Regions from separate parts of the Homo sapiens genome. Here all the other regions are linked to region 1. Evidence: fine-mapped expression QTL. A gene starts in region 1. Each other region holds a variant in brackets. All regions are shown on one strand. Distances are between the middles of the regions.

What was found.
Region 2: its variant is fine-mapped to the expression of UVSSA in whole blood (TOPMed, PIP above 0.99).
Region 3: its variant is fine-mapped to the expression of UVSSA in whole blood (TOPMed, PIP above 0.99).
Region 4: its variant is fine-mapped to the expression of UVSSA in transverse colon (GTEx, PIP above 0.99).
Region 5: its variant is fine-mapped to the expression of UVSSA in substantia nigra (GTEx, PIP 0.98).
Region 6: its variant is fine-mapped to the expression of UVSSA in whole blood (TOPMed, PIP above 0.99).
Region 7: its variant is fine-mapped to the expression of UVSSA in thyroid (GTEx, PIP above 0.99). The same link has a PIP of 0.9 or more in testis.

The regions. Positions count from the first base shown.
Region 1 is chr4:1,345,217-1,349,290 of GRCh38, forward strand. It overlaps UVSSA (UV stimulated scaffold protein A), which reads left to right and starts at 1,992. Exons shown (of 14, transcript NM_020894.4): 1 at 1,992-2,544; 2 at 2,874-2,973. The coding sequence starts at 2,876. RefSeq lists enhancers at 1-232, 233-755, 2,601-2,680 and silencers at 1,051-1,140, 1,361-1,690, 1,931-2,370.
Region 2 is chr4:1,279,017-1,283,090 of GRCh38, forward strand. No RefSeq gene overlaps it. Among named protein-coding and RNA genes, the nearest start is that of MAEA, 8.8 kb to the right of the region's middle. The variant C/G (reference allele first, on the strand shown) is at 2,503.
Region 3 is chr4:1,377,040-1,381,039 of GRCh38, forward strand. UVSSA (UV stimulated scaffold protein A) reads left to right here. Exons shown (of 14, transcript NM_020894.4): 11 at 3,008-3,191; 12 at 3,841-3,949. Among named protein-coding and RNA genes, the nearest start is that of NKX1-1, 27 kb to the right of the region's middle. The variant C/T (reference allele first, on the strand shown) is at 2,112.
Region 4 is chr4:1,420,599-1,424,672 of GRCh38, forward strand. No RefSeq gene overlaps it. Among named protein-coding and RNA genes, the nearest start is that of NKX1-1, 16 kb to the left of the region's middle. The variant G/A (reference allele first, on the strand shown) is at 2,428.
Region 5 is chr4:1,566,412-1,570,485 of GRCh38, forward strand. No RefSeq gene overlaps it. Among named protein-coding and RNA genes, the nearest start is that of FAM53A, 120 kb to the right of the region's middle. RefSeq lists enhancers at 1-790, 791-1,609, 1,610-2,427. The variant T/G (reference allele first, on the strand shown) is at 2,005.
Region 6 is chr4:1,296,051-1,300,124 of GRCh38, forward strand. The region is part of intron 1 of MAEA (macrophage erythroblast attacher, E3 ubiquitin ligase); the gene reads left to right. Among named protein-coding and RNA genes, the nearest start is that of MAEA, 8.2 kb to the left of the region's middle. RefSeq lists an enhancer at 1,247-1,960. The variant G/A (reference allele first, on the strand shown) is at 1,716.
Region 7 is chr4:1,384,984-1,389,057 of GRCh38, forward strand. UVSSA (UV stimulated scaffold protein A) reads left to right here. Exons shown (of 14, transcript NM_020894.4): 14 at 885-3,066. The coding sequence ends at 978. Among named protein-coding and RNA genes, the nearest start is that of NKX1-1, 19 kb to the right of the region's middle. The variant A/G (reference allele first, on the strand shown) is at 2,077.

The DNA.
Region 1 (4,074 bases):
TGCTCAGATCTGGATGTGTTCTGAAGGTAGGGCTGTCAGGATTTGCAAACCAAATGGGCATGGAGTGAGAGGAAGAGAGAAGCCCAAGTGAGTCAGATAATTGGTCCAAGCGAACAGAAGGATGCAGGGCAGGCCCAGGCACGGTGGCCCAGGCACGGTGGCTCACGCCTGTAATCCCAGCACTTTGGGAGGCCGAGGCGGGCGGATCACCTGAAGTCAGGAGTTCGAGACCAGCCTGACCAACATGGTGAAACCCCGTCTCTACTAAAAATTCAAAAATGAGCTGGGCGTGGTGGCGGGTGACTGTCATCCCAGCTACTCGGGAGGCTGAGGCAGGAGAATCGTTTGAACCCGGGAGGCGGAGGCTGCAGTGAACCGCGATCGTGCCACTGCACTCCAGCCTGGGTGACAAAGCGAGACTTTGTCTCAAAAAAAAAAAAAAAAAAAAAAAAAAAAAAGGCTGCAGGGCCATCAGCGGATACAGAGGGCAGTGGACGGGCAGCTTGGCTGTGCTGTTGAGCCTGAGGGCTGAGAGGACACCCCGGGGCAGTGTAAAGGAGACTGGACTTAGCAATTGGTAAGAAAAGTTGGATAAAGAGAGGGTTTTGTTAGTATGGGAGAAACGGCACCCTTTTATACTAATGAGAACTAGTAACAACAAAAAAAACCACGCTGTAGAAGACAGAGGGAAACTGCTGGATGGGTGCCTTGGAGGAAGCCACAGGCCGGGGATTGGATGCACAGGGCAAGGGGCGCTGAGGGAGGGTCTGGCTGCAGCTTGCTCAGTGAAGCAAGAGGCAGGGTGAGGAAGGGGTGAGGCGGAGGAGCGGCTCGGGGCTGGCTGCAAGCTAGGAGCTGGGAGCCACTGACGCCCAGGGACAGAAGCTGGTGCTGCAGAGAGGGGCGGCGCAGGGAGTCCCTCTTCTTTTCCTTTTTAAAATAATTGCTTTACTGAGATATAACTCACACATCCTGAAACCCACCCTGTAAAAACACGATTAACAGAGTTGTGAGCTACCACCACCGTAATGCAAGGGCACGCCCATCCCCCCGAAAAAGAAACCCCGGCCCGCCGCCGGCGGCCCCCGCCCTGCACCCAGCCCCGGGAGCCCAGTCGGGCGTCTGCTCTGCGTGGCCTGTGCCGGGCGCCCCGCGAGTGGGGTCCACACCACGCTCCTCCGAAGCCACGGTTTCCCAAGCGCGGTCTCCAGGTCCGTCCGTCCGCAGCCGACCTCGCACTCCCCTGCGTTCGAGGCTGCGGACTTCGGCGGCAGGACGGACGGCGCCTCTGCTTCTCATTCCGCCCAGGGCCAGCCCGGGCCCAGGGGTACCTGCTGTGCGTCTGGCGCCGAGGTGGGCCCCGAAGACCCCCAAGCCCGCCCAGGGATTCCCTTCCCGAGGCCGGAGCGGGGAGGCGCCGCGGGGTTCAGGGCGCCCTGCGCGGGGCGAGCTCGGGGGCGGGGGCCCGCGCCCGCCCGTCTGGGCGGTCCTCACCGGCCCTCTGCAGGTGAAGGGACCTGGCTGCGAGCCCGCGGGCGGGCGTGGCGTTGAGGCCCAGACCGGAACTTCCTTTCGGCCTCAGTTTCCCGGCCGGCCCCGCCCCCGGCGCCCGTACATGCGGCCCCTTTAAGGACTTTCTGCGCCCTCCCGCCTCTTTTTTCTCGTGCGTCCCCCTCCCCACCCCCGGCAGCCTGCCTCGCCCTCGCCGGGAGCGCGCCTACGTCACCGCGCAGACCTCGGCCGCGTCTTTGCGCCTGCGCCTCCTGGGCTGGGGTGAGCCATTGGCTGTCGAGCTCAGGGCACGTGCTAGGGGGCGGGGCCTTGACCGGAAAGGGTGGGGCAACGGCGAGAAAGGCCGCGTCGAGCGGTAGGTGCAGTCGTCGCTGTGGTGACCCCAGGTCCTGATGCGTCCGGCCCAGGGCCAGCCAATGGCGGTAGAGGTCTTGGGCACCTGACAAGAGGGGCGGTCCCCCCGCCGGAAGGGGCGGGGCGAGGCGAGCGGCCGCGTCAGCGGTAGGTGGGGCTGTGGTTACGCTGCCGGGCGGGGGTCGCGCCGGTTCGGTCCCCGGGGCTCTGCGGGCGCCGGGCAGAGACCTGCGGCCAGGGCGTGTCCCGTGTGCCCGAGAGCGCCGGCGGCGGGGCCGGAGGGCGGGCCCTGGGCCGAGTGACAGGCCGCAGCCCCCCGAGCACCGTCGAAGCCGGCGCGCCCGCCCGGTGCAGCCGCTGTGCGAGAGCGACCCCGCGGTCCAAGCCTCGCGTGGCCCTGCCGGGCCCCTTCTTTCCCCGAGTAGGGCGCAGCTTCCCAGCCTCCGCCCCGGCCTCGCCTGGCGCTTCCTTCCGGGTCCTTCGGCCTTTCCCTGGCGGTGCGGCAGGCCCTCGCCTCATCCCACCAGGCACGCCGCGGTGCTCGGCCCTGGGTATCCGGGCAGGCTGCCTCCGTTAGGGCCGCCCCTGCTCTCCGGACGCGACTTTTCATTGGTCTCAGAATTTCTTGGCTCCTCTTGGCCTCTGCAGCCTTGCTGGAGGCTGCCCTGCGGAATCTGAGTGAATAAGGGAAACAGCAACAGTCACGTTGGGGAAAAGCTGATTCGGACAGCGCCACTGGTTCCTTTAACGCACGACCCTCAATGCAGCGTCCCACACACGGGATTGTAGAGGTCCCGAGTTTAAGGTTCACTTTTAAAACTGCAATCACCGCCGTAAAGGCCTTGCTGGACACACATATTTCCCAGAGAGGCACCCACAGATGGACCCCAGCCTCAGGGTCCTCCCGGAGCTTTCGGTTTATAGTGGAACCCAGTAAACACGTTAATAACACCGAGAGCTATAAAATACAGATGGTGATATAGCATCTCTGCCTTACTTATTTCTAGATATGGATCAGAAACTTTCGAAGTTGGTAGAAGAGCTCACAACTTCAGGAGAACCCCGACTAAATCCTGAGAAAATGAAGGAACTGAAGAAAATTTGCAAGTATGTCTTAGGGTTCAGTAACAGTAACTGACTGGCCCACTGAGCCCAGGACACACACAGGGCCCTGCCCTCCTGCCCCCACCTGGGAGAGAACCACCCGAGGGACACACCCAGGACATTTTCTCGGGGCCCTGCAGTACCCGGCTCTGACGGGTGGTCATGTTCTGGGGTCGGGGCGTGTGGCGTTGGGGACCCCACTGCTCTGTGGTTGGTGCTTCTCTTCATTCCCATTTGTGTGGTCTGGAGCACATCCTGTAGGAGTTCTTGAGTGCACAAATGTGATTCAGAGAGAAACGTGCATCTTTTTCTTTGCTGCTGGACTTTTCGAAGGGAAAGAATAGAGCTTGCTGATGGGCGAGTTGGTCCATCGCCTTTAGGGTATGTCCACCTCTGTTCACTTCCTCCAAGGAAAACGCCGGAGGGGATCTCTGCCGTCACCCTCAGGCAGCCAGAGATTCATGGGGGAAGCAAAACTTCCCCTCGGAGGGTGGAGCATAAGTCGAGGACACTGATTATTCTGTATCCTGTGTTTGTAAAATGGCAGTTTATAGATTGTTTATACAGTGATGGAGTGTTGACATTTTGATAGAAAATTTCAGGTCAGGTTTTGTGGCCTGCGCCAGGAAATCGAATTCGCAATGGTTTATGTGGGGTCAGGAGCTGGGAATAGGAGCATTCAGGAGGGGCTGGGAGATGTCCCGAGCTCTAGGCCTTCCTTCCTTCCTGCAGCAGGAGGCACCCAGCTGAAACAGTGTGCGTGCTGGGCGGTGTGCGTTGTGCCAGGCGGTGTGTGTTTGTGCCGGGCGGTGTGCGTTGTGCCGGGCGGTGTGCGGTTTGTGCCAGGCGGTGTGTGTTTGTGCCGGGCGGTTGGCGTTTGTGCCGGGCGGTGGGCGTTTGTGCCGGGCGGTGTGTGTTGCGCTAGGTAACGTGTGTTTAAAGAGCCAGATGGTTTGTGTTTCAGGCTTTGCTGTAATGCCTCAGTTGTGAACACAGCTGTAGATGATGTAGGTGGATAGATGGGCGACGTTCCAATGACACTTTGTGAATGAACACCGACATTTGAAGTGTATATGATTTTCACATTTCACCAAGTATTTTTTG
Region 2 (4,074 bases), 66 kb before region 1:
CGCTCCTCCCTGGTCCTCTGCGTCCTCGCTCCTCCCTGGTCCTCTGCGTCCTCGCTCCTCCCTGGTCCTCTGCGTCCTCGCTCCTCCCTGGTCCTCTGCGTCCTCGCTCCTCCCTGGTCCTCTGCGTCCTCGCTCCTCCCTGGTCCTCTGCGTCCTCGCTCCTCCCTGGTCCTCTGCGTCCTCGCTCCTCCCTGGTCCTCTGCGTCCTCGCTCCTCCCTGGTCCTCTGCGTCCTCGCTCCTCCCTGGTCCTCTGCGTCCTCGCTCCTCCCTGGTCAAGGGCTGCATCCTTGCGTTCTGTGAGCTCTGCCCGTTGGGAGCATCCATGCTGATGTGCAGGGGCCGTGCAGCACTGCATTCTTCTTGCCTTCTCTGTTCTGTTTAGTACAACCACCCCAGCAGGTCTCCAGTTCCTGCCAGGTTAGTGTGGATGGCCCAGCACCATCTCCTCTCCATCTTGTTGGCTATCCTCTCTTGTTCCTCACAACCCCGCCAGGGTCGCGGCTCAGGAGCTCTGCCGTGTGAAGTGTGCTCAGCAGTTCTCCTCACATGTCTACGCAAAATCTCTGGCTCCCTGTGTGTCTGAGCCCAACAGACACACTGAGCACAGGAGTTGGCTCTCAGCTCCTCCCAGCTTGCCGTGACTGAGCCCTGCCGTCCTGTGGCACCGCCACGGAGACCACAGTGTCCAACTGTCCAACCTTTACGTAATTGGCATCCCAGGAGGAGAAGCAAGAGTGAATGGGGCAGGAAAAGATCATTAAAGAAATCGTGGCTGACATAAAAAAGGATGAGTTCATGTCCTTTGTAGGGACGCGTGGATGAAGCTGGAAACCATCATTCTGAGCAAACTATCGCAAGGACAGAAAACCAAACACCATGTGTTCTCACTCATAGGTGGGAATTGAACAATGAGATCACTTGGACACAGGGTGGGGAACATCACACACCGGGGCCTGTCGTGGGGTGAGGGGGATGGGGCAGGGATAGCATTAGGAGATATACCTAATGTAAATGACGAGTTAATGGGTGCAGCACACCAACATGGCACATGTATACATATGTAACAAACCTGCATGTTGTGCACATGTACCCCAGAACTTAAAGTATAATAAATTAAAATTAAAAAAAAGAAATCGTAACTGGAACTTTTCCCAATTTAATTCAAGAAACAAATCTGCAGATACGGCCGGGCAAGGCGGCTCACACCTCTAATCCCAGCACTTTGGGAGGCCAAAGCGGGTGGATCACTTGAGGTCAGGAGTTTGACACCAGCCTGATCAACATGGTGAAACCTTGTCTCTACTAAAAATACAAAAATTAGCCAGGTGTGGTGGTGCACATGGGTAGTGCCCTACGAACACAGAATTCTGAGGGGTCCACGAGGTGTGGAAGGGCAGCAAGGTTTCCAGTAAATACAAGTAAGGGTGTCACATCCAGGACGGAGTGAGCAGGGGCCCCAAAGCCCAGAGAGGCCATGCCTTCTGTTTGAACCAGAACATGCCATAAACACAGAAGAAACGGGAGTGCTAAGAAACACATACCCCATCATGTACTTCTTACGCATGGGACTTCCTCACATCAGAACTGCGTGTGCTTGCAATCCCAGCTACTCAGGAGGCTGAGACAGGAGAACTGCTTGAACCCAGGAGACAGAGTTTGCAGTGAGCAGAGATTGCACCACTGCACTCCAGCCTTGGCAAAAGTGCGAGACTCTGTCTCAAAAAAACCCCAAATCTTGCATATACAAGATGGTCAACGGTGAGAGACATCCCATCTGCACCTGTTCCCGGCACCCCAGCTGCATAGAGCATGGGTAGTTCCCCACGAACACAGAATTCTGAGGGGTCCATGAGGTGTGGAAGGACAGCAAGGTTTCCAGTGGGTGCAAGTGAGGGTGTCACATCCAGGACGGAGTGAGCAGTGGCCCCAAAGTCCAGAGAGGCCATGCCTTCTGTTTGAACCAGAACATGCTATAAACACAAAAGAAACAGGGGAGTGCCAAGAAACACATACCCCATCATGTACTTCTTACGCATGGGACTTCCTCACGTTAGAACTGCGTGTGCTGAACATGGTGGACAGGAGGAAAGATGAGGCAACCCACAGTTCCTTTTCCCTCCAGACACCCCTTACTTGTCAGTAAAAGTAGAGGGCATTGGTAAAATATGTGCACATCAGAAATGAAATCACAGCTGCATTAGCTTCATGCAGCACTCCATGAAGAAGAACAAAACAGGTCTGTGCAATCGAGCTGGGAAGCACAGGCCTCGTGAGTTTGGTGACGCAGAGTTCGAACTAAAGCACTTACGTTTGCATTTAAAACTGGCGTCAGACAAATGATGGTGAACACTATGATTTGCTTATGTTTGCACTTAAAACTGGCGTTGGACAGGCTGGGTGCGGTGGCTCGCGCCTGTAATCCCAGCACTTTGGGAGGCTGAGGCGGGCGGATCACAAGGTCAGGAGATCAAGACCATCCTGGCTAACACGGGTGAAACCCC[C/G]TCTCTACTAAAAATACAAAAATTAGCCGGGCATAGTTGGCGGGCGCCTGTAGTCCCAGCTACTCAGGAGGCTGAGGCAGAAGAATCGCCTGAACCCAGGAGGTGGAGGGTGCAGTGAGCCACGATTGCACCATTGCACTCCAGCCTGGGTGACAGAGCAAGACTCCGTCTCAAAAATAATAATAATAAATAAAAATAAAAATAAAAAATAAAACTAGCGTTAGGTGACGATGAACACTACAATTCGTGTGAATAACTGCTTATTTTTCTTTACTTAGAATGACATTAAATGATGAATTTTAAAAATGCCATGATGTGGGCCAGGCGCGGTGACTCACGCCTGTAATCCCAGCACTTTGGGAGGCTGAGGTGGGTGGATCACACGGTCAAGAGATTGAGACCATCCTGACCAACATGGTGAAACCCCATCTCTACTAAAAACAAAACAAAACAAAAAAACAAAAATTAGCCGGGTGTGGTGGTGGGCGCCTGTAATCCCAGCTACTCGGGAGGCTGAGGCAGGAGAATCACTTGAATCCGGGAGGCAGAGGTTGCCGTGAGCCGAGAGCACGCCACTGCACTCCAGCCTGGCGACAGAGTGAGACTCCAACTCAAAAAATAAATAAATAAGATAAAATAAAATAAAATAAATGCCATGATGCAGAGGCTGCAGTGAGCTGAGATTGTGCCACTGCACTCCAGCCTGGGCGACAGAGCAAGACTCCATCTCAAAAAAAACCCAAAAAAACCCACTATGATGGAAACAGTCAACAGAGGGTGGAGACGACCTGTTGAATGGGAGAAAATATTTGCAAACTATTCATCCAACAGGGGACTAAAATCCAGAGTATACAAGGAACTCAAGCAACAATAAAAAAAAAAATCCCACTAGAAAGTGGCCTGAGGGCACTTTTAGCCCCCAAAATAGAAATGTCTATTTTGGGAATAAACATATCTCAAAAGAAGACAGACAAACAGCCAACAGGTGTATGAAACAATGCTCAGCACCTCTAAGCATCGGGGAAGGGCAAGTCACCACCACGACGAGACGTCATCTTACCCCAGTTACACGGGCTCTTATTAGAGAGACAAAAAATAACAGATGCTGCTGAAGATGCTGAGGAAAGGGAGCTCTCACACACGGTGGGTGGGCGTGTACATTAGTGACGGCCGTACCGGTTAACAGTGAGAACGGTGGGTGGGCGTGTATTTTAGTGACGGCTGTACCGGTTAACAGTGGGAACGGTGGGTGGGCGTGTACATTAGTGATGGCCGTACAGGTTAACAGTGAGAATGGTGGGTGGGCGTGTACATTAGTGATGGCTGTACTGGTTAACTGTGGGAACGGTGGGTGGGTGTGTACAGTAGTGATGGCTGTACTGGTTAACCGTGGGAACAGCGGGTGGGCGTGTACATTAGTGACGGCCGTACCGGTTAACAGAACGGTGGTCGTGTACATTAGTGACGGCTGTACTGGTTAACTGTGGGAATGGTGGGTGGACATGTACAGTAGTGACGGCTGTACCAGTTAACAGAACGGTGGGCATGTACATTAGTGACAGCTGTACCGGT
Region 3 (4,000 bases), 32 kb after region 1:
CCGTAACCACTAAAGCCAATGCTGCGGGGTCTGCGGGGCGTGATGCGGGAGCGTCTCATCCGTGTGAGGGGCTGATGTCAGAACCTCCAGAGAGCGGGGGGGCAGGGGAGCCGGGCAAGGGTCCTGGGGCAGCTTCAGGGCCTGAGGAGCACCGTGTGCCCAGGGCAGCCACTGCCTCTGTGTCTGGATGCCCAGGAACGGGCCCCGAGTGCCGGGACGTCCTGGCACATTGTCCACAGCTGCCTGTGTTCCCGGGGTTCTGCTGGGCTCACACACGACACACGAGAGCAGGATGGTAAGCGAGGCAGGCCCTGGTCTCACTCACAGCAGGACTGAGATTTGAGGGCCCCGTCCTCAGGGCTCCACAGACACCGCCCCTAGTGGGGGCCAGATTAGGGACAGTGTGAGGAGGGAGGGGCTGGGCAGGCTGCTCAGCGGCCGGAGAGGTCGGGAAGAAACAGCTGTCCCTGTCACACATTGCCACCAGGGGTGCCCCAAGGCCAGTGCTTGGTTTCTGAGCCTGGGAGGTGACGCCCAGCAAAGCTCCCACCGAGAAGCGGATGCCCGTCCCTCCTCCCACCTGCCTGGCCCGTCCCCAGGACCACAGGCTTTGCCCTGAGCCCCCAGGCAGTTGGGCTGAGAGAGAGGCCTGAGCAGCTGCTGGTGAGGACCCGGTTAGTCCTGGATGGCACCGGGGCCCTGCTGGGCAGGCCTGGCTTCACGTTCCACCTGCCTGGCCCGTCAGCACCACGCACCTGGTGCATCGAGCTCACGGCTTCATGTTTCCCCCAACTGCCTGCACACTGCTGTGGTCGGCTTGATGGAGTTGCAGCCTACACATGGCAGCGGCCCGGGCTGGGGAAGGGCCCCATGTCAGCTGCGTGGATGGGGGTACATGGGCTGGTGCAGGAGATGGCACCTGGGTGCCACATGTGCCCCACAGCCAGTTGAGGGCCACACTCCTCCTGGCTGGCCCCTAGCCAGGATGGCAGGGGCTGCTCACCCCACATTCCCTCACCAAGTGGAGGGGTCCTGCCCTCTGGCTCTCAGCCACATTTAGGGATCTCGGAGAGCCTGGGCTCGCCCCTTTCATCCAGGAGGTCAAGATGATGCGGGTCCGGGAAGCCAGGGCCTGGCCAGGCCGTGGTGGGAGACAGGGCTGATGGGGGTGGCGGCCACAGGCAACCACTAGAACAAAGCCGTCCTGGTACACAGAGGGCTGGCGGGCCCTGGCTGGGTACAGTGGCTCACGCCTGTAATCCCAGCACTTTGGGAGGCCAAGGCAGGTGGATCACTTGAGGCCAGGAGTTCGAGACCAGCCTGGCCAACATGACAAAACCCCATCACTACTAAAAATATAAAAATTAGCCGGGCGTGGTGGCGTGCGCCTGTAATCCCAGCTACTCGAGACTGAGGCGGGAGAATCGCTTGAACCCAGGAGGCGGAGTTTGCAGTGAGCTGAGATCGCACCATCACACTCCAGCCTGGGCAACAGAGCAAGAGTCTGTCTGAAAAAAAAATAGCCAGTGGTCCTCGGCCGAGGGGAGTAGAGGGAAGCATCCCTGCACCTGGACGGGGAGGAAGCGGTGGAGCCCGTGGTGTGGCTGCTGTGCGCCGGCTCCTGAGTGTTCTCACTGCGATCCACGGGGCGTCTCTGGTCCGAGTTCCGGGTGGCAGAATGCATCGCTGCTTCTCCCACGGGGCCTTGGGTGCAGCAGGAAGCATTTGGCCGGGCGGTCAGGCACCCTCGGGGGAGCCGCATGTACCTCCTTGACTGCGGGGCACATGGCCAGGTGCTCTTCAGCCCACCAGGGCTTTGCCCGAGACGCCTCTGCCTGTAGTGGGGCCAAGGCCCTGGGCAGCACATTCTGCCTGCGTTCCCACCCACTGCCTTATCCCAAACCAGCCTCATCCCAGACCAAGGTGGATGCAGAAATGAGGTCCAGGCGGCCCCAGGGCAGGGCCTACTGCTGGTCCCTTCTCCCTAGCGTGGGCCGTGCCTGGGGCTGTGCTCCTGTCTGTGGACCTGGGGTGAGGGCGGGGCTGCTGGGCTCTGCTCCTCCAGCATCCTCAGGCACAGGGTGTGGGAGCCCGGGAGCTTCGGGCAGAGC[C/T]GACCGTTCCCCAGTCAGCAGGCAATGAGCAGCCTCTCATCACTGGGAGCCCTTGGCACTGCCCATCTGTCCTCCCCAGCTCCTGCTGGCCCCAACTGTGGCTGTGTGTCCTAGAAGGAGGCCTGGTGGCAGCACAGGGGCAGTCTGGTCTGTGTGAGGGCCCCTCAGACACTTCTCCCCTGCCTGGGCATCCAGGTGGGCAGGGGGTGGAGTCCTCTGAGGCCGGCCTCCTCTTGGCCGGCACACCCAGCCCCCCCATCCCATGGCATCCGCCGGAAAGCGTCCCTAACCAGGTTGATGACAACAGCAGAGCGTGGGAGCGGACGCACCTGGGACGCCTGGGAGACCTGGGACGCCTGGGGCAGTGGAGTCTGGTCTCCAGCACCCGGCCCCTCTGTGCTGCCAAGGGCTGAACGGCCTTCACTCCTTCTCCTGGGTGTGCTACCGCCCTGTCCTTACGTCCCTGCAGTGGAAGGACGACCTTCATGTGGATGCCCCGTTGGCCTTCAAGGTCACGCCTCAAGGACGCAGCAGCTGTCGCCCTTGTCCTATAGGGAGAGCCCATCTTGCAGGTGGCAGTCGTGCCCGTGGTCGCGCGGCTGGTTCACGTGGCGTCAGAATTCAGACGCAGGCGGTCGTGCCCGTGGTCGCGCGGCTGGTTCACGTGGCATCAGAATTCAGACGCAGGCGGTCGTGCCCGTGGTCGCGCGGCTGGTTCATGTGGCGTCAGAATTCAGACCCAGCCGGGAGTGACCGTGTTCTCCCTGGGTGCTGTCCACAGTGTTGGGGTGGCTGGGCTGCAGTGGTGTTTGGCCTTCCCCTGTGCCTGCACCACCGTGGCCACGCTCTTCTGGGGTCCCTGCAGATGCTATGAGGGCCTCTGGCTGTGTCTGCAGGTCTGACTCCCAGCACCGCTTCTGGAAGCCCAGCGAGGTGGAGGAGGAAGTGGTCAATGCCGACATCTCCGAGATGCTCCGGAGCCGCCACATCACTTTTGCCGGGAAGTTTGAGCCTGTGCAGCACTGGTGCCGTGCCCCGAGGCCAGACGGCCGGCTCTGTGAGCGCCAAGACCGGCTGAAGGTGAGGCCGTGGCCCGAGGGCGGGGGTGGGTGTGGGCTGGACCAGGTGGGGCAGCCAGAGGGGTGCTGAGCCCCACCTGCCCCTGCCCTGGGTCAGGGTGCTTGTGAGCACTGAGAAGCCCATGGAAGGGGCTTATCCGTGGTGGGCAGAAATTGCTTAGCCGTTGGCCATCAGAGCATGGTGTCTGGGGCTCCTGCCCACGGCCCTGAAGCCTGACACCTGGGTACATGGCTTGGGGACTCTCCAGGGGCCAAGACACACAGTATCCTCCATGGTTGCAGCCCGGGTCTGTGCTGGGCCTGGGATCCTCAAAAGTGAGGAGAGGCCAGGGGGCCAGGGCAGCTCCCAGCCGGGCAGCTGGGCATGGTGCAGGGGGGTCGCTATGGCCATGCTGGATGAGGGAGGCCTAGACTTTCCACAGCTGCCCAAGACCTTCCGGCTCCAGAGGAGGGACGGAGCCATCCCCACGTCCCTGTGGCTCTCAGGACGCCCTCCTCTGAGGGGCGCGTGATTCCAGGTTGTGTACACTTTGGCTCTGTGATACCACCCACCCTGGTCGCTGTTTGTGCCCAAGTCGTGGTGGTGGGGGGAGGTGGTCAAGGCAAGCGGACCCCTCCCCGCCATCAGCCACCGTGTCCTCGCTGTGCAGTGCCCTTTCCATGGGAAGATTGTTCCACGGGACGACGAAGGACGGCCGCTCGACCCGGAAGACAGGGCTCGTGAGCAGCGGCGGCAGCTGCAGAAGCAGGAGCGCCCGGGTAGGTCTGGGCAAGGCGGTCACCGTGGGAGGCACAGCCTGGGACTCACTG
Region 4 (4,074 bases), 75 kb after region 1:
CATCTGTCAACATTTTGGTGTCAATATGGTTTTGTGTATCCAAAGCCACACCTTTATTCTGGAATCTTAAAATATACCTTCAGACATTAAGTTGCTTCACCTGTAAATATTTCAGGCAAGAAAAAGAAATAAAATGTAAACATATTGAAACAGAAAAAATAAAACTAGCCCTGCATACAGACGACATGATTATCTACGTAGAAAATCCCAAGGAAAAAGCACCCAGAATTCATAAGTCAGCAAGGTCAGAGAAAAAGCCTGAAAAAGGTCAATCTAATTTCTATATACCCACGATCAGTGATTAAATCCTAAAAATTCAAAAACATTTTATAATAGCTCCAGGTTAAGGAAGTTCCTTCCTATTCTTAATTTTCTGAGAAATTTGTAAAATCATTAACAGATGTTGCATTTTATCACATTTTTTTTCCGTATCCATAGGCTCATATGGCTTCTCTCGTTGCGTCTGTTGACATGGTGGATTGTGATGGCTGGCGTTCTCTGTTGAACAGCCTTGTGTTCTCAGGGTAAACCCCACTTGGCCATCATGTGCTCATGCTTTCCATGTTTCTGGATTTGATCGCTAGTGTTTTGTTGAAGATTTCCACATCTATGTGCCTGAGAGGTTTTGTCCTGTAGTTTCTTTTCTTGTGATGACTTTGGTGTTGGTATTAGGGGAATTCTGGCCCTGCGAAATGAGTTGAAAGTGTCACTTCCAGCCGGGCATGGTGGCACATGCCTGTAATCCCAGCACTTTGGGAGGCTGAGGCGAGTGGATCACGAGGCCAGGAGATCGAAACCATCCTGGCTAACATGGTGAAACCCCGTCTCTACTAAAAATACAGAAAATTAGCCGGGCATGATGGCGGGCGCCTGTAGTCCCAGCTAGTCGGGAGGCTGAGGCAGGAGAATGGCCTGAACCTGGGAGGTGGAGCTTGCAGTGAGCCGAGATCGCGCCACTGCACTCCAGCCTGGGCGACAGAGCAAGACTCCAACTCAAAAAAAAGAGAAAAAAATAAAATAAAATAGAAAGTGTCACTTCCACCTCTATTTTTTGATTAAGTTTTGTATAGAATTGGAGTTATTTTTATGTTTAAATATTTCGTAAGATTCACCAGTGAATTTATCTGGACCTGGAGTTTTCTTTTTTGGGAGGTTATTAACTATGGATTCAACTGCTTTAGTGGAGATAGGGCTGTTCAGGTTATTAGTTCTTCTTGAGTGAGTCTTGGTAGTTTGTGGATTTCCAATTGGTCCAGTCATCTGAGGTGCTGAATCCGTGCATGGAATGCTCCTTTGTTATCCTTACAATGCCTGTGGGCTCTGCAGTGACAGCCCCTCTGTTATGCCTGTAATGGGTCACTTGTATCTTCTCTTTCTTTATCAGTTTTACCTATTTTTATTGACTTTTCCAAAGAACCAGCTTCTGATTCCATTGATTTTATCTAATATTTTTGTTTCTATTTTTCTTAACATTTTATTTACTTATGTTTTTTGAGATGGAGTCTCGCTCTGTCACCCAGGCTGGAGTGTAGTGGCGCCATCTCAGCTCACTGCCTCTGTCTCCCAGGTTCAAGTGATTCTTCTGCCTCAGACCCCCAAGTAGCTGGGATTACAGGCATGTGTCACCACACCTGGCTAACTTTTGTATTTTTAATAGAGACGGGGTTTCTGCATGTTGGCCAGGCTAATCTCAAACTCCTGACCTCAAGTGATCCGCCCACCTCAGCCTCCCAAAGTGCTGGGATTACAGGCATGAGCCACTGCACCTGGTTATCTGTTTTTAATTCCACTGACGTCGGTTTTATCTTTACTATTCTTTCCTCTGATTGCTTTGGTTTTCTTTGGCTCTTGTTTGTCTAGTTACCTAAATTAGAAGCTTAGGTTGTCAATGAGATGTTCTAATATAAGCATTTATTGCTAAAAATTTCCCTCTAAGAGCTGCTCTAACTGCATACCAAAAATTTTGATATTTTAAATTTTCATTTGTATTTAGTCCAGAATGCTTTCTAATTTCTTCTAGGAGAACTTCTTTGATCCATGGATTACTTACAAGTGTAATTGTTAATTTCTCAGCCTCTGGGGTTTTAAAGGTATCTTTAGGTCATTCATTTCCAGTTTAAACCCACTATTGTCAAAGAACATGCTTTACATAATTTTAATTCTTCTAAATCTGTTAGTTTTGTTTTATAAGCCAGGATATGGTTTCTCTGGAGAGTTCCATGTGTACATGACAAGAACGTGTGTCCTGCTGCTGTTGGATGGCAGATGCTGTAAATGTCATTTAGAAATTGTTGGCTGATGGTATTGTTCTCCTGTATCCTCCCTCCTTATCTACCTAATTGTTCTGTTGATACTGAGAGGACTGTTGAGGCCCCAGCTAGAGTTGTGAGTCTGTTACTTTTCCTTTCAGTTAAAGGTCTGTTATGA[G/A]GGCAATACACGTTTAGGTTTTTATGTCTTCTTGGTGAATTGACCCTTTTGTCATTATGTAATGTCTGTTTACCCCTAATAATTTTTCTCGTTCTGAAGTTGACTTTATCAGATATTGTAGCCATTCCAGCTTTCTTTTGATGAACATTTCCCTGGTATATCTCTTTTATCCTTTAACTTTTAATTTACAAATATAGTCATATATAAAGTGGGTTCTGTGTAGCCAGCATGTAGTGGGATGGATATTTTTTAAAATTCACTGTAACAATCTCTGCCTTTTAATTGGGTATGTTTAGATTACTGACATTTAACATAACTGTGTTTGAGTTTAATTTTGTGGGTACAGAGTATGTGTGTATATTTATGGGGTACATGAGATACTTTGATACAGGCGCGCAAAGCATAAAAATCACATCATGGAGAATGGGACATCCGTCCCCTCAAGCATTTATCCTTTGTGTTACAAACAATCCGATTATACTCTTTTAGGTATCTTTATTTTATTTATTTATTTTTTTTGAGGCAGAGTCTCACTGTCGCCCGGGCTGGAGTGCAGTGGCGCGATCTCGGCTCACTGCAAGCTCCACCCCCTGGGGTTCATGCCATTCTCCTGCCTCAGCCTCCCGAGTAGCTGGGACTACAGGCGCCCGCCACCACGCCCGGCTAATTTTTTGTATTTTTAGTAGAGACGGGGCTTCACCGTGTTAGCCAGGATGGTCACGATCTCCTGACCTCGTGATCCACCCGCCTCGGCCTCCCAAAGTGCTGGGATTACAGGCGTGAGCCACCGCGCCCGGCCTCTTTTAGGTATCTTTAAATGTACAATTAAATTGTTATTAACTACAGTGACCCTGTTGTGCTATCAAATACTAGGTCTTATTCATTCTTTCTACCTGCCCTTTGTGCCCATTAGCCGTACTCCCACCCCCACCACCCTTCCAGCCTCTGGGAACCATCCTTCTACTCTCTCTGAGTCCAGTTGTTTTCATTGTTATCTCCCACAAATAAGTAAGAACAAGCAAAATTTGTCTTTCTATGCCTGGCTTATTTCACTTAACACAATGACCTCCAGTTCCATCCATGTTGTTGCAAATGACAGGATCTCATTCTTTTTTTTTTTTTTTTTTTTGAGATGGAGTCTCTCTTTGTCACCGAGGCTGGAGTGTAATGGTACAATCTCAGCTCGCTGCAACCTCTGCCACCTGGTTCAAGCCATTTTCCTGTCTCAGCCTCCTGAGTAGCTGGGACTACAGGCGTGCACCACCACGCCTTGCTAATTTTTGTATTTTTAGTAGAGACGGGGTTTCACTATGTTGGCCAGGCTGGTCTCAAACTCCTGACCTCAGGTGATCTCCCCACCTCAGCTGCCCAAATTGCAGGGATTACAGGCATGAGCCATGGCGCCTGGCCATGGATCTCATTCTTTTTTATGACAGAATTGTGTGTAAGTACCACGTTTTCTTTATCCATTCATCTCCTGGTGGACACTTAGGATGCTTCCAAATCTTTCTGTTGTGAACAGTACTGGAACAAGCATGGAAGGGCAGGTATCTCTTCGGTAACCTGATTTCCTTTCTTTGGGGTGTGTCCTCAGCAGTGGGATTGGTGAGTCGTATGGTAGCTCTCTTTTTAGTTTTTTGAGGAACC
Region 5 (4,074 bases), 220 kb after region 1:
GGCAGGCAGAGGGGCAAGGCTCCCACCAACAGCATTCCCGGTGGACTGGGCTCTGGGTGGGGCGGGGCTCCAGGTGGGCGGGAATATGGCTGGAGTCACAGGTGGGTGTGGTTCCAGGTGGGTGGGGCTCGGGTGGGTGTGGCTTTGGCGGGAGTCACAGGTTGGGTGTAGCTCCAGGTGAGCGGGAATATGGGTTGAGTCACAGGTGGGTGTGGTTCTGGGTGGGTGTGGCTCCGGGTGGGTGTGGCTTCAGGTGGGTGTGGCTTTGGCGGGAGTCACAGGTTGGGTGTAGCTCCAGGTGAGCGGGAATATGGGTTGAGTCACAGGTGGGTGTGGTTCTGGGTGGGTGTGGCTCCGGGTGGGTGTGGCTTCAGGTGGGTGTGGCTTTGGCGGGAGTCACAGGTTGGGTGTAGCTCCAGGTGAGCGGGGCTCCCTTTGGGTGGAGTCACAGAGGGGGGCTCCTGGGGAGGTCCAGCCCCAGGTCTCTCTTCTTCTCCACAGGGAAGGCCTGTAAGTCAGCCCCTCCCTTGTGACCCTCCTGGAGCAGGGGCTGGGCCAGGGGGTCCCCCCACCCCCGTCAGGTCAGGCACCCACTGCCCTTCCACATCAGCTGCAGCCTCGGCTCTCTCGCCTCTCCTCCTGACCCTTGAGTCATCGGGGCCTCCCTGTCCTTGGTGCCGCTCAGGCTCTACCTTCACTCCGCTGCAGTCCCAGGCTTCACAGCATCCCACCCTGCGGGCTCAGATCTGCAGATGTGTGCAGCCCTTTCCCCAGCACCCTGCCAGAGCCCAGACCCTCCCAGGGCAGCTGGAGGAGCAGGGCTGGTGGTACCCGGTACTGGTGGAGGGCAGACCAGTGGAGGGAGAGAGGGAGGGGGCAAGGTCCAGGACCGGCGGGCGGGTGCTGGCTTTGCAGCATGAAGGACCTGGGGCTGCGTGAGGCCCACCCACTCCTCGCTGCGCAGGGCGGGGAGCAGCCTCGCCTCCTGCCGGAAGAGAGGCCCCATCCTCTGAGCTCCCCTCCCACCCCCTGCAGCAGCCCTGTCCCCCGCCATCCCCCACCAGGGACTTTCAGGACCTCTGCCCCCTCCTCCGGCCCAGAAGCTGGCCATGGCCCCACAACCCAGGCTGAAGGGGTGGCCCTGGCCACGCCCCCTGTGCCCAGCAGAGTCCTGGGATCTCCTCTCTCCTCAGCACCTGCTCCCCCTTTGCTGAGACCACACACCCAGCCAGATTTGGGGGGCTGGAGAAACCCCTAATCATGACTTGGGCTCGGGGTCCCTCCTCGGCCTGAGGCCACATCGTTAAAACACCTGGGGCCAGGACAGCCCGAAAGGCCCCCAAGGACCTACCAGGAGCAGCCCCAGCCCAGGGCCCCCGGCCCCTCCAGCCTCCCCTCCACACATGGGTGGAAGGTGCAAGGGGATGGGGGACACAGCCGTCCACACGTGCGACCAGGGGAAGGGCTGGGCAGCACGCCCCGCCCTTCCACAGCTTGGACCCGCCCAGCATCATGGGATCAACCTTGACCCCAGCTCGGCCCCAGTGTGTTAGGCCAGACCGGCTGTGGAGGTGCAGGCAGGGCCGGCAGGGACGGGGTTAAGAGCACGGCGCCTCCCAGGCCTCCCTCCTCGTTCCCTTTGAAATGGCTCCCTGGTTCCAGAATGACTCCGGCTTCCCCTCTTAATCTGTATTTTACGAGTGAGAAGGTTTGCATTATGCAAATCGTTAGATAGGAACAGGTGACATTTCAGCAAAGAACACGGCAGGCGGCGGCCTGCGGCTGCTGATTTAGACATTAGTATTTGTCACCAGGGCGGCGGGGGCGGAGGAGAACTCGGCCACGGAGGGCTCCTCACACCTTAAGGTGGAAGTCTCCCAGCCGGGGCAGGCCGGGCCCGCACACCCTGAGGCCTCCCAGCGACCAGCACACCACCCGCGGGAGCTCCCTTCTGTGCACCAGGCTCCGGCCCAGCAGCACCTCCTGGAGCTCACGCCGCCACGG[T/G]GCAGGGCAAGCACAGGCCCATTTTACAGATGAGGAAGCCGAGGCCCGGCGAGGTGATGGGCGGGCTGGGTCTCAGCTGGAGAATGGGGCAGGGTCCAAGCCAGCCAGGGATGTCCCCACAGCGAGTGTCCGGAGGGCCCACTCCCCACGACTGCACAGTTCATTCTGCGGGTCCTTCCTCCAGCAGCGCCCCCATCCCAACTCCACCCTCTCCCATGCAGCCCACAGACAGCCTGGGGCGGCCCGCCCACCCCACCCCACCCGCGCCGCCTCCCACCCACCCCACCCGCGCCGCCTCCCACCCACCCCACCCGCACCGCCTCCCACCCCACCCCACCCGCGCCACCTCCCACCCCACTCCACCCGCGCCGCCTCCCACCCGCGCCGCCTCCGACCCGCAGCCCCGCGGCGCTCTCCTGGGCAGGCTCTGCGGCACCATCCATCATCCACTGTCAGAAGCATCCGCGTCCATTTCCCGGGAAGTTGTTTGAGGGGAAATGGACGAAAGAGAAGGGAGCGGCCACGCACTTCCCAGGGCGCCCCGCGAGCCCTTCAATTTTCCAGCTGCCTGACAACGCCCACGGCGCACCCAGCTCTGAGGGGCATGAGAAACGCCAGGCCCTCGGGTCCTCCAGAGGCTGGGAGAGCCGTGGAGCCACCGGGGCAGGCTTTCCCAGGAGCCCCATGGGGGCTGTGGGCCGCAGCACGCAGCCGGAACATGGACGGCAGTCCCGGGCAGACCCTCCCGGCACAGGCCCGGCAAGCTGCTGTCCCGGCTTCGAGGTCTCTGGTAGGCTGAGCTGGTTGGTCCTGGGGCTCCTGTGTGGCCGTGGGTCTGTAGGCAGCCAAGGGCAGTATGTCCTGGGGAGCCTGCAGGGCACCGGGCAGGGCCCAGCTCCCCACAGCCCGCCTGGTCTCTCCGGCCTCTGGCTCTGAGTCTGCAGGATGTGGAGTGGGCTGCAGCAGGCTGCTCTCTGTGCTTCTGAGAGGCTGGGCAGCCCTCTGGGGAGCTCAGGGGAGTTTGGGGTGCCGTGGTCCAGGACGACCTGGATGACCTTGGATGACCTCGAAGGCCTTTTGGCTCAGACGACCCTGGATCCCAGGGGTGTGTGGGCAAAGGCAAGAGAAGGCCCATGAAGAGAGGCTGGGCCTGTTGTGCAAGGAGAGCAAGGCCAGAACCAGCGGCAGGGCCAGACGGCAGCACTGAGCACTCCGCCTGTGCAGGGTGACCCCTCTTGCCCTGTCCTTGCCTGTGGGGGAGGAAGGGTGGGGCAGCAGAATACCGAGGTGGGAGCCCTTTGTGGAGCCGAAACCATGGCAGCCGGGAGGCCAGATTCACCCACCCCAAGGACCCCCAGACCCCCGGCTTCATACAGCAGCGCAATGGCATTAGTAACACGCTTTTCTTGGGGAGACTTTGGGGCAGAAATGAAGTTGCAGGCAACATGCCATGGGGGAGGCAGAACCCTGGACACAGCCCAGCTCCAGGGCGTTGTCTGGGGCTCACGCCACCTCTGAGACACCCGCGTAGGGGGCGCATGGCTGGCTTGTGGCTGGCAGATGCCGGTAGATGCACCTGGCTGAGGAATCCGCTCAGATCCTCAGCAGATCTGCCTGGTGCTCACAACCCCACTCCAGGGGCTCCTGACACTGAGAGGCGGGGATGTTAGCTCCTGGCTTATCTAGCGGGGTTCCTTAGGCCACAGAACTTTGGGTTCTGGACACCTGTGGGGCTGTGAGGGGGGTTGACCCTGGGTAGGAAGAGGGTGCAAGGGCACGGAATTCCTAACTCACGCCTGGAAGTGTGCGGACAGTGTTTAGCCAGAGGGGTGGCTCAGTCCTCAGACATCACACAGAGTGGGTCATTCAGCCACTCAACAAACACAGGGATCCAGAGGGGACAAAGGAAGTGGCCCGGCCAGGGTGGGCTGAGCACCCTCCATGTGCCTGGCATTGGGCTCGGTGCCGGCCGTGCAGTGAAGGCCAGGGCCCTGTGCCTAGCAACAGAGCAGCTGGGTCCTCGTCTGGCACCCCCACGAGGTGGCTTATCCATCTACACGGGTTGGCTCT
Region 6 (4,074 bases), 49 kb before region 1:
TCCCTCACCTGCTCCTCCCTCACCTGCTCCTGCACCACCTTCACGTGCGCCCCCCACCTACATCTGCACCTCACCTATGCTACCCTCACCTGTGCCCCCCCACCCGCACCTGTGCCCCCCTCACCCACGTCTGCACTGCCCTCACCTGTGCTGCCCTCACCTGTGCCCCCCACCTGTGCCTGTGCCCCCCTCACCTGCTCCTCCCTCACCTGCTCCTCCCTCACCTGCTCCTGCACCACCTTCACGTGCGCCCCCCACCTACATCTGCACCTCACCTATGCTACCCTCACCTGTGCCCCCCCACCCGCACCTGTGCCCCCCTCACCTGTGCCTGTGCAGCCGTCACCCATGCCATTCCTCACCTGTACCCCTCACCCATGCCTGTGCCGTTCCTCACCCGTGCCTGTGCCCCCCTCACCCGTGCCTGTGCCTCCCTCACTTGCGCTGTGCCCCCCTCACCTGTGCTGTGCCCTTTGCCTTGTGGCTGCTCCTGCACTTGGTTCTCTCTCTGTTGGTCGGTTTTCCCATTGGCTGTGCAGCTCCCTGGTGTGCACGTGGCTCTGAGTCTTCCTCTCGTGAAAACCCCTTCCTTGCCCCCGTCCTCCTCCAGCTACTACTCCCTGTCTCTGCCCCTTCATGTCTCTCTTCCTGTTTTACCTAAATCAGATTTTTGCCCCCCAACACTCCACCCAGATGTTCCTCTTGAGGACAGGATGATGCTCCTGAAAGCGGTCAGTCCACAGCGGACCCCACTGCCTCGAGACGCTCCCATCACTCGGCTCCCGTGACACCATCCTCTGGGCTCTCCCCACCCCTCGCTGCATGTCCTCACTTGCCTATGCTGTCTTCTCTAGTCTTGGAGGCCTTTTGTTTTATGTCACCAGCCAGCCCTCCAGAGGTTGTGTGGCTTCACAGACGGTCTCCAAGCTCCTGTCCCCACACTGCTGCCCTCCCCAGGCCTCTCTCCCTGAGGCCATCCCGTGTAGTCACCTCCCGGAGCTCTCTTCGCATGTCTGGAAGGCAGTTCAAAGATACGATACCAGGCGCAAAACCAAATGCCGCATCTCGGCCTTGGGGCCCCAGACGAGCCCCAGACCTGCCTTACTAAGCCACCCTTCCCAAGTCAGTTGACAGCGATGTCCCCCGGCACTTGTTCAGTGACAGCCGAGAACTCGGAGGTTTTCTCGATTTCTGTTTCTCACGTTTATCCTTGAGTCCACGATGGCTGCTGGGGCTGCGGCCTTCGCGGCCAGGAGGAGGGTAAGGGGGAATCAGTGCCGCCCTGCGTGGCCAGCTCCCTGCGTGGGGGCCTTAGTGGACATCCTCCCAAGCGTTTACACTTCAGCTCATTCCCCAGAGCACGGGGCTGGCCATTTCTAGCTTTGGAGGAGCCTGAAAAAGTACGTGCGTATGTGTGTGTGTATACATACATATAGAGAGAGAGCACGCGCTTGAGTGTGGGCTCATTGCTGCCCTAAATAAAATTAGGATGTGGTTCCTTTTGCCCTTTGTCCCTTGCCTGCCTGGTTTCCTTTGCAGCACTCGTCACAGTCTGACGCGGTCGCCTGCATCTCTCTGTGCTTTGGTTGGGCGTCTCCTTTAGAGCGTCTGCTCTGCGAGGGCACGGGCCGTCCTTTGTCGTCGTTCACGTCACACCCACGAGTGCCTGGCACAGGAGTCAGTCAATGGCTGTTGGCCGAACCAATTTCTCCCCC[G/A]TCTGTCTGGGAAATTCCTAAACTTCGCATCTCACTTTTGTCCACTTGCCGCATTCTAGAGTATGTCTTGGTCTCATGGCCTGTGCTCTCATCTGGCTGTGGTCAGCCTCTTGCGTTTCCTTTCTCCCTTGCCTCCACCCCTCGCGATGTAGCCCCATCCCCTGCCCTTCTCTGCTTCCCATTGTTCTAGAACATTCCAGCATGGAAACCCCGCTGTGCAAGGCCCCTGCACTGGCCACAGAAGCCGCACCTATCTGCTGAGGAACCCGGTTGCTGCCTGGAGTGGGTGTCGAGTACTGCCTGGCAGCATAGCCATGCTTCTTGAGGCATTTTAGCACCCTGTACCCCAGGTACTGTTCCATATGCCCCTCCTTCTCCATGAGCCCCCCATGCCTGCCCCGTCCTTGTGCTCTGCCCGCGGCTTGGCCCTGTCTGTCGCCTGCCTGCTTGTGCTCACTGTTTCCTTTCTTTTACTGGAGATATGTCATTTGTGCCCCGCCCAAGGCCAGCCTTTGTTCATGCACCAGACCCCCTGCCCCATCCCTGTGACCTGAAGAGGCATGTGCCGTCTTCTGGTTATCCACGAAGAGGCACACGCGCCGTCTTCTGGTTATCCACGAAGAGGCACACGCGCCGTCTTCTGGTTATCCACGAAGAGGCACACGCGCCGTCTTCTGGTTAACTGTGTGCGGGACCCACAGGTCCCCTCTGTCTGAGCCAGCCCTGCCTTGGGGTCTCTGGAATTGCTTCTCATCTGGTTTTACCCCCATCACAGTGCTATAGTCAGGGCACCAGGTAACCCCAAGACACTGCTGAGACCCATGATGGATTCTTGCTGCCCATCTCGACCTCTCACAGGGCTGGAACACAGCTCACCCCCTCGGGCTCCTAGAGCGCCATCCTCGCGTTTCCCCCCGGGCTCAGTCCTTGGCCCTGGGTGTTGCTGTGAGCACCGCTGCCTTGGTGCTCTCACAGGGTCTAGTGGACTGATAGGACCCTCTGTGTATACTGATGACTCCCAGGCAGGTATCTTCCCAACCCCAGAGCCCTGTATCCAGTAGCCTGTAAAACATACCCACTTGGCAAGGCACTTTGGCATTAAAATTATTATTATTAAAATTATTATTATTTTTAGAGATGGGATCTCACTCTGGCACCCAGGCGGGAGTGCAGTGGCATGATCACAGCTCACTTCAGCCTTGACCTCCTGGGCTCAGGTGATCTTCCTGCCTCAGCCTCCCGGGTAACTGGGACCACGGGCGCCTGCTTCCGTGTCTGGCTAATTTTTTTATTTGTAGAGATAGGTTCTAGCTCCGTTGTCTAGGCTGGTCTCCATCTCTTGGGCTCAAGCATTCCTCCCTCCTGGGCGTCCAAAAGTGTTGGAATAACAGGTGTGAGCCACCATGCCCAGCTCCTTGGCATATTTAGATCTGAGCTTATCATCTTAACACCTGCTGCCCAAACCAATTCTACCAGTCTCCCTTCTCTTCGGGAAGGGCAGCCCCTCCATCTCCCTTGGTCAGGCCAGAACCTTCAGGTTGGCCTTGATGCCTCTGTTGTCACAGCTCATGCCCAGCCCGTCTGCCCCTCCACCCTGGCGTCAGGACATGCCCAGGCCCAGCTGCTGCTGCTCTTCCCACCTCTGCCCCTGCGGCTCAAGTCGCATCTCTCTCTGGAATATTGAATAGCCTTCTGGCTGCTCCTGCTCTGCTCATGCCCACCCCGGCTGCCCCAGCGCCAGATCCTGTCGTCTTTTTGTTCTAGGAGTTTCCTGACCTGGGGATGAAGGCCAGGGTCGTTACAGTGGCTCCCAGGCCCTTTGCCCTGTAGGGTGCTGGGCCCAGTGGCCTTTCTGCCGCCATTCAGCCAGGCCAGCATGCCGAGCCCAGGGTTTTACTGCCACCTTCCTCTGTCTGGAGCGCTCCTTCCACAGATGTCCATGGTCCCATGTCCTCACCTTCAATCTTTGCCAACGTCCGTGGTCCCATGTCCTCACCTCCTTCAATCTTCGCTGAGCTGTCAGCTTGTGAAGCTTCTCTGACTCCACTGTTGAAACTGCAGCCCCAGCATCTCCCACTTCTGCCCTTTTCCCTCGTGAGTCGTGACCGCTGTCTCACATAACGGTATTTTGCTTGTTTCTGACCACTGGGATTATAAGCTCTTTTGAAGGATAGAGAAGAAATAAATTCTCCAATTAACAAATGAACAAAATAATATTAAATATTATTTTGGCAATTCTGTCTAAAGCAGTAAGAATTGAAATAGAAGTAAATGTAACCATTGAGAAAGTCAGCACAATAACGGGGCATACAGTAAGTGCACGAAACCCAGTCGCCACCCTCTATATCACCGCCAGCCA
Region 7 (4,074 bases), 40 kb after region 1:
GCCACCCAAGGCACCTTAGCCCTTGGAGCTCAGGGTGAGGCTGTTTTCCCGTGGATCAGCCAGGGGCAGAGGCCAGCCTTGGTGCTGATGCCCAGGAGGAGGAATGGCCAGTGGGCCCATGCCAGGCCTCCTCCCTGTGTCTCATGGGGACACTGAAGCCCATGGCAGGAGCTGGCTCTTCGCCACAGCTGTGTGGCCCAGACCCCTCCCTACAGAAAGGATCTGGGGTGACCACAGGCAAAACCCTGCCTCGAGGGGCCCCCACAGCAGCGCCTGGCAGCCCCACAGGGGCCGCAGCTGAGCGGCAGCTTCACCACATTGTGGCCTCAGGCCCTGCTGGCTCCACAGCTCCACACCCTCGTGGGTCGCAGCAGCTGAGCTGGTCAGCACAGCACACCTCATCCTGCTCCCCGGAATGCCTGCCTGGCCCGTGCCCCCCCTGCTGCAGCCCTCCAGGTTTCCAGCCCTGGCCGTGGAGCCGTGCGTGCAGCAGCGGGCAGGGCTGTCCTGACGCCTCCTGGCTGCATCTCCTGCGAGGCCGCTCCCCGGGAGGCCAAGGGGGAGGCTGCCCTCATCCTGGAGTGCGGGAGGCCACGGGAGAAGTGCCAAGGTGGGGCTGGGGCCACCTTCACCGCGCAGAACCACCCGCCGCAGACTCCGCTTCTGGGACCTGGGGCGGCCCTTTCTAAGCCTGTCTGTCTCGGGCCAGGGCCAAGGGGCCCGTCGCCCATCTGTCTCTGAAGGTGGCACCCACAGGCAGTCTGTCAGTGTCCGAGGGCAGCAGTTGCCCCAGGACCAGTGCCTAACTTTGGTGATGCCGCCACTGGGAGCCCAGGCCCCTGGCGGAAGCCTCCCAGGTCACATCTTGCCTTGTTTCCCCACAGGGCAGCTGTGCGGAGGGTAGTGGCAGCCATGAACCGGATGGACCAGAAGAAGCACGAGAAGTTTTCAAACCAGTTTAACTACGCACTGAACTAGAGAGCGGGGCCCAGTGCACTGGCCATCAGCACTTTCTCCCTCTGCCAGTGTCTCAGGACAGCAGAGTGGGCGTGGGTCTGGGCAGTAACCATGCTTTGTCTATTACTGTGTTTGATGTAAAGAAATGGTGTGTTGCAATGCCCTGAAGGTACGGCCGCTCTGCTGCTACAGGGTTCGGCATCGTCTGGTGATGGGTCTGGCCTCGCAGAAGAGGCCCTCGGGCCTGGAGATGTGAACACAGGCAGCGACCCTGTTCCAGAGGGCTTCTGCGAGTCCTCGTGAGACCAGTGCTTGTCGTGGTGTGGGGTTCAGCACGGACGGAATGTGTGTGCAGCTCAGCCTTCAGAGCGTGCATTCCCCAGCCAGGAGGCGACCACTCAGAGGAACTCTGGGAAACCCACTTTTGTGCAAATGCTGTTTTTAACACAAACACAAAGGCTAGTGAACCGTTCAGTCATCTGCTTTCTGTTTCTGGATGTGCCTTTTCATACATGTGTCCTCTTGTCCCTGGCTTCTTACACTTGGCGTTGTTTTTAAGGTTTATCCATGCAGTTCCCCTCCAATGTATAAAACAAAGGAGGTGAAAACCTGTCCATGCGGAAGCTTGTGCACCCATGTTCACAGCAGCATTGGAGAAGGATACCGAACATCTTCTCGTGGGCTTACTGGCCATTTGTGTATCTCCTTTGGAGAGGAGTCTATTCAAACCTCTTGCCTATTTTTAATTGAATGATTTATCTTGAGTTGTAACAGTTGTTTTTTTTGTTTTTCCTTTTAGAGATGGGCTTTTGCTCTTACCCAGGCTGAGTGCAGTGGCAGAATCATAGCTCAGTGCAGCCTCAAACTCCTGGGCTCAAGCCATCCTTCCACGTCAGCCTCCCAGGTAGCTGGGACTACAGGCACACACCACAACACCTGGCTAATTTTTTAAATTTTTTGTAGAGATGAGGTCTCACTGTGTTGCCCACGGTGATCTCGAACTCCTAGCCTCAAGCGATCCTCCTGCTTCGGTCTCCCAAAGTGTTGGGATTACAGGCATGAGCCACCACTCCTGGCCAGGAGTTTATATGTATACTGTGGATACTAGATCCTCATGTG[A/G]TTTGCAAAAACTTTATTTATTTATTTATTTATTTTTGAAATGGAATCTTGCTCTGTCGCCAGGCTGGAGTGCAATGGCGTGATCTCGGCTCACTGCAACTACCACCTCCTGGGTTCAAGCGATTCGCCTGCGTCAGCGTCCTGAGTAGCTGGGACTACAGGCGCGCACCACCACGCCCAGCTAATTTTTGTATTTTTAGTAGAGACGGGATTTCACTGTGTTGGCTGGGATGGTCTTGATCTCTTGACCTCGTGATCCACCCACCTCGGCCTCCCATAGTGCTGGGATTACAGGTGTGAGCCACCGCACTCAGCTGATTTGCAAAAACTTTCTTCCATACTGTTGTTTCACTTTCTGGATAGTGTCCTCTGAAGCACAAAAGTTAATTTTGATGAAGTACAGCAATTTATCTGTTTTTTTCTTTTGTTGCTTATGCTTTTGCTGTCACATTTCAGAAGCCATCACCTAATCCAAGATCACAGAGATTTACACCTAGTTTCTAATAAGCATTTTATAATTTCAGCTCTTATGTGTAGATCTTTGATCCATTGTGAATTAAGTTTTGTGTGTGGTGTAAGAGCCCACATTCTTTTGCATGTGGATATCCAGTTGTCCCAGCACCATTTGTTGAAAACATTATTTTTCCCCATTGAATTATCTTCGCACCATTATTGATAATCAGTTGACCAAAAATGTACAGGCTTATTTCTGGGCACTTGACTCTATTCCATTGACCTGTTTAACCTTATGCCAGTGCCACAGTGCCTTGATCAGTGCTGCTTTGTTGTGAGAAGTTTTACTTTGTTCTGCTTCAAGGCTGTTTTGACTCTTCTGCATCTCTTGCATTTCCAAATGAATTTTAGGATCCACTCATCAGTTTCTTCAAAAAAAAAAAAAAAGCAGCTGAGATTTTTGATAGGAATTACATTAAATCTAGAGATTGCTTTGGAATGTATTACCGTCTTAATATTAAATCTTCTGAGTCATGAGCTTCTGATTATCTTTCCATTTATTTGGGTCTTTTTAAATTTATTTCAACAGTATTTTGTAGTTTTCAGTATATAAGTTTCTCACTTATTTTGTTAAATTTACTCATATTTTATTATTTTTGATTTATAACCAAAAGGACTATAAATGCAATTATAAATTATTAAAAGATTATAAATTGCATTTACAAAAGCAATCACAAATGTAATTGTTTTCCAAATTTCACTTTGGGGCTGATCATTGCTAATATGTGGAAGTACAACTGACTTTTGTGTATTGATCTTGTATCCAGCATTCCTTGCTGAACTTGTTTATTCATTCTAATTAGTTGTATGTTCCCTAAGATTTTCCATACACAAAATCATGTCATCTGCAAACAGCTTTCTTTCTAATCTGGATTTCTTTTATTTCTCTTACCTAATTGCTCTGGCTAGTACCTCCAGGACAATGTTGAATAGATGTGGTGAGAACAGACATCCTCGTCTTACTCTTGATCTTAGCGGGAAGCTTTCGGTCTCTCACCATTGAATGTGATGCTAACAATGCAGTTTTGTGTAGATGCTTCTATCAGGTTGAAAAAGTTACCTTCTCCTCCTAGTTTGTTGAGTGTTTTTGTCATAAAGTATTGAATTTTGTCAGATGCTTTTTCTCCATCTGTCGAGATGATAGTATGATTCTTGTCCTTTATTATAGTGATACAGTATATTACATTGTTTCTCATATATTGAACCGACCTTGCATTCATGGGGCAAATTCTACTTGTTCATGGTGTATAATCCTTTTTCTATGCTGCTGGCTTTGGTTTGCTAGGATTTTGCATCTGTATTCATGAGGGATATTGGGCTGTAGTCTTTTTGTGATGTCTTTAGCTTTAGTCACGTCACTACTGACCTCATAGATTGAGGTGGGAAGTGTTCCCTCCCCTCCTATTTTTTGGAAGAGTTTGTGAAAGATTGTTGTTAATTATTTAAACATTTGGTGGAATTTACCAGTGAAGGCTGGGCTTTTCT